2 separate regions of the Homo sapiens genome follow, and region 1 is linked to region 2. Evidence: fine-mapped expression QTL. A gene starts in region 2. The other region holds a variant in brackets. All regions are shown on one strand. Distances are between the middles of the regions.

Region 1 (4,386 bases), 330 kb after region 2:
TGCAGTGGTGCAATCATGAGCTCAAGCAATCCTCCCGCATCAGCCTCCCGAGTAGCTGGGACCATAGGAATGCACCACCATGCCTGGCTAATTTTTGTATTTTTGTGGAGACAGAGTTTCACCATGTTGCCCAAGCTGGTCTCAGACTCCCGAGTTCAAGCAGTCCTCTTGCCTTGGCCTCCCAAAGTGCTGGAATTACAGTCATCAGCCACTGCGCCCATCGGCCTAGGAAGTTTTAAAATAATCAAAATACTAGCTTGAACTTTAAGATCAATGCAAATGTTTTCAAAATTAAAAATGTAGAGGTTTCATATAATTAATATGTGAATTTAGCAAGACTACTGGATATGAGATCAACATACAAATGTATTTCTTTATAATAGCAACAAAAAAATTAGAAAATGAAATTTACAAAAAATATCATTTACATCAGTATCAAAAATATCAAATACTTAGGAATAAATCTATTGAAAGATGTTTGAGATTTTAACCTGTGGCCAGGAGTGGTGGCTCATGCCTATAATCCCAGCACTTTGGGAGTCTGAGGTGGGAGAATTGCTTGAGCCCAGGAGTTGGAGACCAGCCTGGGCAACATAGCAAGACCCCACCTCTACAAAAAATGTAAAAAGAATCATAATAAATGTTCAAAGAAAAAAAAAAAGACCTCAACCTGAAACATTCTCTCTCTCTCTTTTTTTTTTTTTTTTGAGACAGAGTCTCATTCTGTTTTCAGGCTGGAGTGCAGTGGCGCGATCTCAGCTCACTGCAACCTCCGCCCTCCGAGTTCAAGCGATTCTCCTGCCTCAGCCTCCCGAGTAGCTGGGATTACAGGCGCCTGCCACTGCACCCGGCTAATTTTTTGTATTTTTAGTAGATATGGGGTTTCACCTTCTTGGCCAGGCTGGTCTCGAACTCCTGACCTTGTGATCCACCCGCCTTGGCCTCCCAAAGTGCTGGGATTACAGGTGTGAGCCACCGCGTCCGGCCCTCTCTCTTTTTTAAGAGACAGTGTCTCACTATTTTGGCCAGGCTGGTCTCAAACTCCCTGGCTCAGGTGATCTTCCTGCCTCAGCCTCCCAAGTAGCTGGGACTACGGGCATGCACCACCATGCCTGTTTCTATAAGACATTCTTGACATAAATTAAACACGACCTAAATAAATGGACAGATATTTCATGTTCATAAATTAGAAGACTCAATATTGTTAAGATGCCAGTTTTTTCCAATTAGTTCATAGATTCAGTGTAATTCCATCAAACTCCCAGCACATTCTGTGTGTGTATGTGTGTGTGTGTGTGTGTGCACACGCATACATTGACAAGCTGATTCCAAAATACATATGGACAATCCAAAAACCTTGAAGTTTGGCCAGGCATGGTGACTCATACCTGTAATCCCAGCACTTTGGGAGGCCAAGGCAGGCAGATCACCTGAGGTCAGGAGTTCAAGACCAACCTAGCCAATATGCTGAAACCCCCTATCTACTTAAAGTACAAAAAAATTAGCTGGGCATGATGGCGGGCATCTGTAGTCCCAACTACTTGGGAGGCTGAGGCAGGAGAATCGCTTGAACTTGGGAGGTGGAGGTTGCAATAAGCCAAGATCGCGCCATTGCACTTCAGCCTGGGAGAGAGTGAAACTCCATCTCAAAAACAAAACAAAACAAAACCTTGAAGTTGAAAGACTTACACTACCAAATTTCAACATTTACTATATAAATCTATAGTAATTAAGACAGGGGACTCTTGGAGTAAGAATAGCTGAGTAGATCACTTGAACAGGATAAAGAGTCCAGGGCCAGCCACGGTGGCTCATGCCTGTAATCCCAGCACTTTGGGACGCCGAGGCAGGTGGATCACCTGAAGTCAGGAGTTTGAGACCAGCCTGACCAATATGGTGAAACTCCGCCTCTACTAAAAATACAAAAATTAGCCGGGTGTGGTGGCGTGTGCCTGTAATCCCGGCTACTGGGGAGGCTGAGGCAGGAGAATTGCTTGAACCCGGGAGATGGAGGTTGCATTGAGCCGAGATCGCACCATTGCACTACAGCTTAGGCGACAGAGCAAGACTCTGTCTCAAAAAAAAAAAAAAAAAAAAAATAGAGTCCAAAAATGGACCTACACATATAGGTTCTTTTGATTTATGCCACTGTAATCAAGTAGGGGAGGGACGTCCTTTTAATAAAAGGTGCTGGAATAATTGGATAAGTACAGAGAAAAATAAACTCTGACCCTTAACTCACACTATACACAAAAATTAATTTGAGTGGATCATAGACCTAAATAAAAAAAGTATAAAACAACAATAAAACAACTTCTAAATAAAAACATAAGATAATTTTTTTGATATTGGG[GT/T]AAGTAAAGATTTCTTTTTTTTTTTTTTTTTTTGAGACGGAGTCTCACTCTGTTGTCAGGCTGGAGTACAGTGGTGCGATCTCCGCTCACTGCAACCTCCGCCTCCCAGGTTCAAACAATTCTCCTGCCTCAGCCTCCCGAGTTGCTGGGATTACAGGCATGCACCACCATACCCGGCTAATTTTTGTATTTTTAGTAGAGACGGGGTTTTACCATGTTAGCCAGGCTGGTCTCGAACTCCTGACCTCAGGTGATCCAGCCGCCTTGGCCTCCCCAAAGTGCTGGGATTACAGACGTGAGCCACCGCGCCCAGCCTCCTGAATGTAAATTATATCTCAATAAAACATTGAAAAGTAAGGAGTTTTTTGTTTATTTTTAATTACAAAAGCAAAATAAATGCTTGGTCTTTATAGACTACTAAAACAAGTATAACTAGAAGAATGACAGGCCTTGATCTCATTTCTAGGGACAAGATCTGTCTTCAAATTTATGCAGGTCTTCCATGGGACAAAGAGAAGGGTTGTATTGTGCAGATGCCAAAGAGAGGATCTAGAATCTGTGGGGACAAGCCACAAGGAGATAGCTTTCAAGATGAAGGAAACCTTTTTTTATGCCCTTCTCCACAAATGAAACAGGCTGCCTTGAGCCAAAATGAGCTGGCTGCCAAAGGCATGAGCAAGCAGAAGGCAGCCACAGGCATCCACGCATCAGGTGGGGTTGGATTAGACAGCCTAGGTCTCGTCCTCTGCCTCTGCTACTCCTTTAAGGAACAGCAAGGAGTAGAACAGCCCCTCCCACACTATGAGTTGTCCCTTTGTGTTAACAGAAATGGCCAAACCCATCTGCTGAAAGCCATAGATTGCTGGAGGACTAGCTCTGGAGTCTGAGCCCTGATGGCAGTGAAAAGGGAGGGAAGGACACAGGACAAAAGTCTTGGTTCTTAAGAAACGGACAGGCCAGGAGGTGGTTCACATCTGTAATCTCAGTACTTTGGGAGGCCAAGGAGGGAGGGTCACTTGAGCTCAGCAGTTAAGACCAACTTGGACAACATAGGGAGACCCTGTCTCTACAAAAAATAAAATAATTAGCTGGGCAAGGTGGCACGCCTCTAGTCCCAGCTACTCAGGATGCTGAGGCAGGAGGATTTGTTGAGCACAGGATTTCGAGGTTGCAGTGAGCCATGGTCACACTACTGTACTCCAGCTTAGGGGACAGAGTGAGACCTTGAAAAAAAAAAAGAGAGAAAGAAAAGAAAAAGGAAGAAAGGAAGAAGAAAGGGAGAAAGGGAGAAAGAACGAGAGAAAGGAAATAAAGAAAGAAAGAAAAGAAGGAACTGATAAATTTGGTGGGAAAAAATGGCCAGGCGCGGTGCCTCACACCTATAATCCCAGCACTTTGGGAGGCCGAGACAGGCAGATCACCTGAGGTCAGGAGTTCAAAACCAGTCTGACCAACAATGACGAAACCCCGTCTCTACGAAAAATACAAAAATTAGCCGGGCGTGATGGCGCACATCCCAGCTACTTGGGAGGCTGAGGCAGGAGAATTGCTTGAACCCAGGAGGCGGAGGTTGCAGTGAGCCGAGATCGTACCATTGCACTCCAGCCTGGGCAACAGAGTGAGACTCTGTCTCAAAAAAAAAAAAAAATTGGTTGGAAAACAAAAATAACTCTGAGCTAGGAGTGAGACAGATTCTCTCCTTCTGCCTGTGGCTGGCTGTGTGACCTTGTGCAACTTCCTTGTCCTCTCTGAGCCTGGAGTCTAGGCTGGGTAGTTCTTGGGCCTTCTCTGGTACTGACATCCTTTGAGGCCACACGGATGGCCACCTGGGCCAGATGGGAGTCACTGAAGGGGAAGGTACTGGGAGAGTGACTGCGGTGACTGTAGTGGCAGACAGGAGAAAGAGAGACTTTAGGACTCATTCCCCATCTCTTATGAAACACAGTAAGGGCAAACAGTCCTGCCCTTTCCTATTTCTCTGACCCTCAGTAGCCCTAGGACATCCCAGCTTCCTCCTACGCCACCCAGGCCC
Region 2 (4,386 bases):
ATTGCGCCACTGCACTCCAGCCTGGGTGACAGGGCAAGACTCCATCTCAAAAAAAAAATTAAAAAATGTGACATTAACATTCATCCTTGAGGTGGGGTCTCTGTTCCCTCCCCTTGATCATGGGCAGACCTTTGCAATTGCCTCAACAGTAAGAATGTGGTGAAGGTGCCACTGCATGACTTCCAAGGACGGGTCCTGAGTGGCAATTCTCTTCAGTCTGGTGCTCTCCTACTCCCTCTGAGCTGCTATAGAGGATGTTCAGCTACCTTGAAGCTGCCATGTTGGAGAAACTTCATGGAAAGCCCACAAAGAGATAAAGGAGAGAACTGTCCAAGCAACTCCAGCTGTTCCGGCCCCAGCGGTTGAAGGCTTCCCAGTACTGACATCAGACATGTGAGTGAAGAAGCCTTCTAGGTGACATCAGGCCCAGCCACCATCTGACTATGACCTTATAACAGACCCCAGGCCAGACCGAACCAGCAGAGTCACTCTCAAATTCCTAATCCAAAGAAATTGTCATTTTAAGCTGCTGAATGTTAGGGTGATTTGTTATGGTGCAACAGGTAATTAATACATCAATGTGTGCTGTCCAGACTGTGAAACTCATCCTCTTTCCATAATTTCCACACACAAAAAGAAAACTTACTCACACAAGGCCTTTCTTGTGGTTAGCCCACAAAAGATGGAGAGATAAGTGATGTGAAACAAACAACTTAAAATTGAATTTGGACATCCCAGTTCTAAAAATCCTTTATAGGTTTACCCCACCCACCCCAAGCAATGCCCACCATCCCTCTCTTACATCCTCCTCCTCTTGCTCTCATCTTCCAACAAACTTCAAATTCTTCTTCACTCTGTTAGGCAGAGCAATTACATTCTCTCAAGCTCTTTCTCCCAAACTCAGCTCCAGGACAACCTTTCAAAATCCAGAGCCCTTTGCTAACCTGCCCAATGGAGTTGGACTTTTCTAGCTTCAACTAGGTTCATCATTTTAGCTGATCTGCCTGTGGCCAGCTTCCCCACATTGGATGCCAACCTAGTAAAACAGTCATCCATAAATCATAAGGAAAGCTAAAATGTATCAAGCACCTACTATGTGCTGGTTCGAGGTTAAATGCCTCGCATGAGTCATCTCATTCAATTTCCACAAAAACCCTTTAAGATAAGGACAATTTGCTGGGCACGGTGGCTCATGCCTGTAATCCCAACACTTTGGGAGGCTGAGGCAGGCAGATCACCTGAAGTCAGGAGTTCAAGAGCAGTCTGGCCAACATGGCGAAACCCCATCTCTACTAAAAATATAAAAATTAGCCAGGCATTGTGGCTCATGCCTGTAATTCCAGCTACTCGAGAGGCTGAGGCAGGGGAATCATTTGAACCCGCGAGGCGAGGTTGCAGTTAGCTGACATCGTGCCACTGCACTCCAGAGCCTTTTAAGACTCTGTCTTAAAAAAAAAATATATATATATATATATATGGACTATTAGTATCCCCATTTTACAGATGAGGAAAATGAGACTTCATAGAGTTTGGGGTGCCTGTGGTCATATCTATAATTGTGAAAAAGTCAGATTCCAAAGCATTTTACCAATATTGCCTAAGTGAGTGGGAGGGAAGGGAAGGCTCTCTGGAGTCGGGCTATGCTGGACAGCGGGGTTCGGAAACTCTGGTGAATAAAGTGGTAGTTGTTTCTATGAACATGGAGTGAGAAGGCCCAATCCTAAACACACCAGTGCTTAAGGCAGCTGCAGAGAATTAAAGGCAATAGAAAAAGGGGAGCTGGATGGCAGGAGCTTGGATGGGGAAGACTTCAAGGGCAGGTGAAGATGCCAACAGCTTCCTGCCTGGAGGACCGAAGAAGGGTTGGGCTTCACTGCAGACCTCCAGGAGACAGATTTGCTTGTTGGGACAGAGTAGGGAGGTGAAAGCGAGGTGAGGAAGTTCGGGGGTGGGGGAGGTGCACACAGCTCCACTAAAGAGCTGGAAGAGGCCGATGGAGTATTCATGAGACGGCTGATCCAGGAAGGACTGTGGCATATTAATATGGAAAAGGCCTGTTTGTTTGTGCTTGGAGAGGAAGGAGCCAGAGGAGAGGGGAGCAAGGTGGGCGGGAGCTGGGGAGAGCCTGCAGCAAGATCTGCAGAGCCCGAGGTGCTCTCGGCCTGGGCCCTGGAGAGGACGTAGGGTAAGTGATGGGGCACAGGCTGTGCGTCAGGGGGAAGGTGCTGGGGCCTGAAGGTCCCGAGGGGAACCTCAGACGGCCTTATGCCTTCTCACAAAGAAACTGGACCATCATCTCCGACCCGCACCCCGGTCGCCCCTCGAGGACAGAGGGTGGGCGCAGGAGGCTGGACCGAGCGGGGCGGAGCTGGATGCCTGGCGCCGGCCTCCCTCCCGGCAACCCCGCCGGTCCTCTCAGGTGACAGCTCACGCCGGCCCCCGCCCCGCCCCCCGCATATTCAGGAGCCCCAGCCCACCCTGCCCGCGAACAGCCAGCGCTGGAGGAGCGCCGGGAGACTCTGCCGTCGGTGCGTGCGCGGACACGCACCCGTCCCCCTTGGTCTCGCCGCCAGCCATGGCCGCCGCTACGGCCTCCCCCCGCAGCCTCCTTGTTCTCCTCCAGGTGGTAGTGCTCGCTCTGGCGCAGATTGTAAGTTTCGCAGCCCCTCCGCTGCCAGGGTCCAGGGTGCGGGGTCTGGAGTCCGGGATGGAGGAGCTCTGCCTGTGTCCCGCGCCTACTGACACCCCTAGCCCGAGAGGCCACCTGAGGACAGCGCCGCGGGCAGGTCCCCTCGGTGGGTGCATACATGGTGCCCATCGCGGCACCGTGAATGGAGGTGGCTGAGCCGGAGAGTCAAACGGGACCCGTCCCCAGACGCGCGGCCCGGCCCGGGACAGGCAGCGTGGGGCAGGAGCTGGCGCCCGGTCCTGGCAGCCCGGGGAGCCCAGGTGGCGGGGCATACAATGGTGCTCATTCACCCGCTGCGCAGCCTCCGCCCCCGCCGCCTCCCAGGGGGCGCCGGCTCCAACCAGACGCCGCTGTCGCCCCGAGGCGGCCTCTCGGCCCTGCCCGCCTACCCACGTCTCCCTTCCGAGGGCCGCCGGGGGCTGCGGGCGCGCGGGTAGGGCAGAGACTGGGCCCGGTCGGGTGCTGGGTGTGGTTTCGAGCTCGCCTGCGGGGCGCCAGCCTGGCACTTCGCGGCCTGGGGAGGTCGTGGGCACCGGGACCCCTGCCTGGGTCCGAGCTGGCCTCTTAAAAGGGCCGCCTTTTAAGATCTCTGATCTGTTCAGAGATGGGCAGCAGGATGGAGACTCTCCAGCTGTGAGCTCGCCTCATCTTGATATGACTTGTGACCTCCCTGAAACCTCACACCCACCCAGGGGCATTGAATTGCAGGCAAACGGGATCCAGAGAGAGGGTCTGCTTTCTGGGAGGTGCCGGCTCCTCCTGCTCCCCTGCAGCAGTCAGGGCTTAGCAGAGGGAGGACCGGGCAGCTGTGCTGCCGAAGGGGCGCTCCGAGTGGGAAGATAGTACCCGCTTCACCTCCCTACACCTCCTTTCTCTGCGCCTCCCCCACTTTCCCGTCGGGTTTTCCCGCACCATGGGGAGAGGAGGAGGCGCTGTCTCTGCCTGTCGTTCACGTAAGAACAACAACCCGAGCCACCGCTCACTGAGGGCCGGCAGCCTGCTAGGCACAACCTTACATTCCATCTGTGATTTATTTGAGCTGTCCACGTCTCCATCTATTCCCCACCGCGACCGCGCAAGGGCAAACTGGCACAGTGGAAGGAGTCGGGCAGATCCAGGGCGGACTCCTGGCGCCGCCGCCCACTCTCAGTGACCATGGACCCTTCACGTTCTGAGCCAGTTTCTTCGACTGCAAACTGGGGCCCGTAATAGCGCCCGCCTCCCGGTTCTGAGTATTCTGTAAGATAATGAATGCATGTAATGGCACACAGTGCCTGCTATACAGAAGATTCTCAATACGTGGGAGTTCGCGGAAGAGCTGCGCCCCTAGGACCCCGCTCCCAGGGTCGCTTGCAGCCCCGGGGACGCCCAGCTTCCTGCACTGTCTGAGGACTGCCCCACCCCGTGTGTGTTTTTCAGAGAGGTCCACCGGGAGAGCGGGGCCCCCCGGGTCCCCCGGGACCGCCGGGAGTGCCTGGATCCGACGGCATCGACGTAAGTCTCTAACCTGAGACCAGGGCGGGAGGGAGGCGGCAGACAAAGGAGAACTTTGTGAGCGCTGTGGTGGGGGTGGGGACTTCGGGGTGCCCGGAGATGTAGTGCCCCTCGTCGCCAATAGGCGGCGCCGGCCCGCACCACAAGGACGCCGTTTGTTCTGCAAAAACCTCAAACCAGCCCTGACATGCGGAGCCCGTTAT

Direction of the effects. Alleles are on the strand shown, and positions count from the first base shown. SD is a standard deviation of normalised expression in the study named.
With allele T in place of GT in region 1, the expression in whole blood of the gene that starts at base 2,487 in region 2 is lower (moderate effect, 0.50 SD a copy in GTEx).

The links. PIP is the estimated chance that this variant, and not a neighbour inherited with it, causes the effect.
Region 1: its variant is the best candidate, but not a certain one, in a credible set for the expression of COL9A2 in whole blood (GTEx, PIP 0.60).

What each region holds. Positions count from the first base shown.
Region 1 is chr1:39,980,847-39,985,232 of GRCh38, reverse strand. No RefSeq gene overlaps it. Among named protein-coding and RNA genes, the nearest start is that of MFSD2A, 28 kb to the right of the region's middle. RefSeq lists an enhancer at 4,007-4,386. The variant GT/T (reference allele first, on the strand shown) is at 2,354.
Region 2 is chr1:40,315,387-40,319,772 of GRCh38, reverse strand. It overlaps COL9A2 (collagen type IX alpha 2 chain), which reads left to right and starts at 2,487. Exons shown (of 32, transcript NM_001852.4): 1 at 2,487-2,650; 2 at 4,109-4,183. The coding sequence starts at 2,576. RefSeq lists enhancers at 2,356-2,992, 2,993-3,629 and silencers at 2,803-3,312, 4,073-4,172, 4,183-4,242.